2 separate regions of the Homo sapiens genome follow, and region 2 is linked to region 1. Evidence: fine-mapped expression QTL. A gene starts in region 1. The other region holds a variant in brackets. All regions are shown on one strand. Distances are from middle to middle.

Region 1 (2,500 bases):
ATGTTTTCTAACCTGTCCTTTTTACCTAAATATGAGCTGCTTGAACATCAAAGAGCTGTCAACCTTTAAACAGAGAGAGCCTTGAACTCCAGATTAAATAAACATCTCCTCCTGTGATCTGTTACATCCAATATTGCTGAAGGCAAAAGTCCAGCCCGCACCGCTGTGATCCATCCGTCTCTCTACGCCCCCACCATCAGGAGCCCCCGACACTGGGCTTCCCCTACTCCCGTAATTTTTTTTGTTGCTGTTGTTTGAGACCAAGTCGCACTCTGTCGCCTAGGGTGGAGTGCAATGGCCCAGATGTTGGCTCAGTGCAACCTCCGCCTCCCGGGTTCAAGCCATTCTTCTGCCTCACCCTCCCGAGTAGCTGGGATTACAGGCGCCCGCTACCACGCCCGGCTAATTTTTGTATTTTTGTAAGTAGAGACGGGGTTTTACCATCTTCACCAGGCTGGTCTCGAACTCCTGACCTCAGGTGACCCGCCCGCCTCGGCCTCCCTAAGTGCTGAGATTACAGGCGTGAAACCGCGCCCGGCCTGCTCCCATTTCTTCAAGTTCACCTCGTCTCTGGTCAGGGCCAGCGGGGCACCCTCGGCTCGCCTTCAAGACAGGGGCAGAGGAGGCGGCCCCCAGGCGTCAGCTTAGGCCCCGCGCAGACCTCGAGGGATCCCAGCCCCAGCTCCCGGCACGGCCTCGGCCCCGTGGTGTCCCGTGCCCCGCGTCAGGGCCTCTTCGATGCCTCCCTGACGCCCTCAACCCCTCCCTACCCCGTCTGCCTCTCTTGGACCCCTCGGACCCTCCCTAACCGCCTCAAATACCTCCCTGGCCCCCTCAACGTGGTGTCACCGCGGCCGCTCCCCACCCACACCCAAAACACCACATCGCCGGGCCCCGCGCCCAACTGGTGGCCCCCGGCCGGGGCCACCGCCCCCGCCACTCCCAGCTCCGAGGCCTCCACCTGGCAGGGACCCCCCGCCCCTCCCGGCCCCGCCACCCCCGCGCGCTCACCCTCACGGCAACGCCTCCTCCAGATGGTGTCGGTGTGGAGGATGCGCCGGAACTTCGTGCAGACCTGGGCCAAGCTGGGTAGGTCCGTGCCCGGCAGCGACGCGAAGATCTCCACCAGCAGCTCGGGCGGCAGCTCCAGCAGCGAGCAGCGCGGGGGCGGCGGCGAGGGGCCCGCGCACAAGCCGCCCCCGACCCCGGCGCTAGCCTCGATGCGCTCCTCCTCGGGGTCTGTGTCCGGCTCGCTGTCGGCCGCCGCCGTCTCGGCCGGGCCCCGGCGCTGCTGGCGGCGCCGACATCCGCGCGACGGGCCCACGCCGCAAAGGCGAGCACACACCGCCATGCCGCCCAGTGACGGCCACTGCTGCCGCCTGTGCGCACGCTCCAGCGCGGCCCCGCCCCGCCAGCGCCGAGCCACGCCCCCGCCGCAGAGCTCGCCACGCCCCCTGGAGAGCCTAGCCCCGCCCCTACGTAGAGCTCCGCCCCGGCCGCGCCACCCCCTCCCCGCGGGGCGGCGACCTCAGAGACCCCGCACTGCTGCCCTCCCCTCCAGCGTGAGGGCGCCGCCCGTGACGGGCATGAGAAAAGAAAGTGGTGATGCCGAGTGCAAAACGTTAGACTGCCCCGTGTGAGGCTCGAACTCACGACCTTCAGATTATGAGACTGACGCGCTGCCTACTGCGCTAACGAGGCTGCTCGGCGACCACTTCGCGCCGCGGCTTTTGTGGAGATAGGGGTCGCCCCTCGCGCCCGTGCGTCCCGCTTCCGGCGCCCGAAACTGTGCCGCGCCGGCCGGTGAGTAGAAAGATGCGCCTTACAGCCTCCAAATACAGAGGCAGCAGCCAGAACCCCAAAGGGCGCCTAGAAGCCCTTTTGTCCATTGAAACAACGCGCGTTCCATCGTCTCCGCCTTATGGTAACCAAAAGGCCCGAGCTGCGGAGCTCTGCAGGGACCTTCGGGGATCCCGAGCTCCCTGCGGAAGCCCCGGGGAGGGCTTGGAGGGGCGGCGGCCGGCGCGGCCCAAGAGATCCGGGGATGCGCGCCCGGTCTGGAAAGGGAGGCCCTGCCATGCGGCGCCGCCCAAAGGGCGCCTGTTCCTGCAGCTGCTGGGAGCCGCGCACGCCTGCTCCAGCTGGGCTCCGCCGAGGCCGCTGAGCGGGGTCGTCTCCCAGGTCCGCGGGTGGTGACCGCGAAGGCGTCCTCTCACCTGAGCAGCCGCGCACGTCGCCGTGGGCTCGCCTCGGACCCCATCTCTTGGAGGCCCAGGCGGGAGTATCAATCGAGGCCAGGAGCTCGAGACCGGCCTGGGCAATACAGCGAGACCCTGTCTACAAAACAAAATTTTAGAAAGAGAAGCTGAGACGGGAGGATCGCTTGATCCCAGGAGGCCGAGGCTGTAGTGACCCGTGATGGTGCCACTGCACTTCAGCCTGGGCAACACAGCGTGACCCTGTCTCCAAAACAAACAAAAAACAAAAATAGCCACAAATG
Region 2 (2,500 bases), 45 kb before region 1:
CTCCGTCAGTTGGGTTTTCATATGGAGAAGAAGGAACCACGACCCCGCCTTATGCCACACACAAGATCATTCAAGATGGGGCACAGGCCTCCACACAAATGCAGAACCTGATGTGATGCTACCAAACTTCTATTAAAAAAAAAAAAAATGGAGCCTATCTTTGCAAACTGAGTATTTTAGGACTCAATTTTTAGGACTTTTTTAGGATTCAGAAAATAACCATAAAAGAAAACAAAAAGTTTCACAAATTGGACCTCATCAAAATTAAAACCTGAGTGGCTGAACTTGAGGAAAGGCTCTTTAAATAACAGATAGAAACAAAAGTAACTGAATGTAATGAACAAAGATTTCAATGTTACCGCTGTGAGTACTGCGACTTCAACTTGACACCATCAGGAAGATGAGCATGTGTAGCCATGACCTCGCTTTACATAAAGAGGTCCAAGCAACGGGACCACCAACCAGACCCTGTTACCCAGAATAAGGCCGTCCCAAGCATGTTTATTATGAAATTACTCATCAGAGCAACACATACAAGCCACAAGAAAAAAAAAAAAACAGGGAGCCCAGGACATGCACGACAACGATCAACTTCACGTTGACCCAGGGCCTGCTCACTCAACACATTGTACTCGCGACCCTCGTGGCAGCGCCGGCAGAGGGGGCTGAGGGTGACAAGGATGCCTGCTGGCTGCTTGAAACAGGAGCATGGCCCATCCTCCCTTCTCTGCTCCTTTCACAGGTCTGAGATTTCCAAAAGCCTCAGTCTTGGGGCGGGGGAGGCGGGCCTGAAACACACAGGGGTGGGAAGGGACATGGTGGCTTGCCCTGGCCCGGCACCCATACAGAAAAGGCCAGGTCTGGGTGGGCCCGAGCGTCCCATTTCTCACAAGGACCCACGGCTGAGGGAACCCACAACCCTGGGAACATCATCAGATCATGCCAGTGACGCAGCCTGGGTACAAGGAATGGCCTCCCGGGGTGGGGGTGACCCACACAGAGATGCAGGGATGCCAAAGAGACTGCATTGCCCTCGAAGCCTCCCCTGTCCAGAGCCTGGCCCCTCCAACCTCCCTGGGCAGACAGGACTCCACTCCCTTGGAACCTGCTTGATGTGGTTTGGCTGTGTCCCCACCCAAATCTCATCTTGAACTGTAGCTCTTCCAATTCCCATGTCATGGGAGGGACCCCAGGAGGTAACTGAATCATGGGGGTGGGGTCTTTTCCATGCTGCTCTCATGATAGTGAATAAGTCTCACGAGATGCAATGGTTTTATAAAGGGGAGTTCCCCTGCACAAGTTCTCTCTTTTTT[T/G]GCCTGCCGCCATGTAAGATGCGCCTTTCGCCTTCCACCATGATTTGAGGCCTCCCCAGCCACATGGAACTGTGAGTCCATGCAACCTCTTTCCCTTATAAATTACCCAGTCTTGGGTATGTCTTTATCAGCAGCGTGAAAATGGACTAATACAGTGCTGATCCAGAAGTTCTCAGCCAGCAGAGCTCAGGGCAGTACCGAATTCCTGTCCCTGATCTTTCACCTCAGTTGTGAAAATTATCAGGATGTGTCACCATGTCCAGACCTCCTGGGATGTCCTCTTCCTGGAATGCAGCTCTCCTGGTGACCTACCTGCTCTCTGGCCTTTAGTGGAGAGGAGCTCCCAGCTGATGCATGAATCCACAGACAGCCCCACCCTCTGAACCCCTACACGTCGTGAGAGAAAAGCAGCGAGGACACTGCAGGCCTCAAGATGAACGAAGTGACTGTGGGAGCAGGTGACAAGCCCCACAGGAGGGCGCAGCCAGTGCAGCCCCTGCAGAAGAGGAGAGGCTGCTCTCACTCGAGGATAGGTGGTACAGCACCGTCAGCAGCCCCAGCCTCTGCCCTACCTGGGACAGTGGCACCCTCACCCTGTCAACTCCCGGAGGGGGAGCTCAGAAGCGGGACGAGCCGAGGGAGTATGTCGGATGGGGGTGTGGACATCACACAAACGGCAGCACCCCATACACTGACCGTAAGCGTGCTGCTATTCCAATTGCAAGAAGAGACAGCAAGGGGATGTTTCTGGGAAATAGCTGCTTCTAGAGTTCACACAGCAAATAAACAAGATGAGCCGGGAACATTCCAAAATAGAAGAGGAATACAGGCAATTAAAATACAGTGATAGGCCAGTGCAATGGCTCACAGCTATAATCCCAACACTTTGGGAGGCTGAGGTAGGAGGATCACTTGAGCCCAGCCTGGGCAACACAGTGAGACCCTATCTCTAAGCCATAAATAAAATAAAACATAGCGATAAAACTACAAGAATTCGGCCGGGCGCGGTGGCTCGCGCCTGTAATCCCAGCACTTTGGGAGGCCGAGGTGGGCGGATCACCTGAGGTCAGGAGTTCGAGACCAACCTGGCCAACATGGGGAAAACCTGTCTCCGCTAAAAATATAAAAATTAGGCAGGCATGGTGGCAGGCGCCTGTAATACCAGCTACTTGGGAGTGAGGCTGAGG

Evidence for each region. PIP is the estimated chance that this variant, and not a neighbour inherited with it, causes the effect.
Region 2: its variant is fine-mapped to the expression of FBXO31 in subcutaneous fat (FUSION, PIP 0.91).

What each region holds. Positions count from the first base shown.
Region 1 is chr16:87,382,394-87,384,893 of GRCh38, forward strand. It overlaps FBXO31 (F-box protein 31), which reads right to left and starts at 1,383. Exons shown (of 9, transcript NM_024735.5): 1 at 1,012-1,383. The coding sequence starts at 1,351. It overlaps TRM-CAT6-1 (tRNA-Met (anticodon CAT) 6-1), which reads right to left and starts at 1,701; the gene lies at 1,629-1,701. It overlaps LOC124903747 (a long non-coding RNA gene), which reads left to right and starts at 1,540. Exons shown (of 2, transcript XR_007065168.1): 1 at 1,540-1,803. RefSeq lists silencers at 739-978, 1,119-1,778 and enhancers at 1,186-1,839, 1,840-2,491.
Region 2 is chr16:87,337,692-87,340,191 of GRCh38, forward strand. The region is part of intron 5 of FBXO31 (F-box protein 31); the gene reads right to left. Among named protein-coding and RNA genes, the nearest start is that of C16orf95-DT, 21 kb to the left of the region's middle. The variant T/G (reference allele first, on the strand shown) is at 1,314.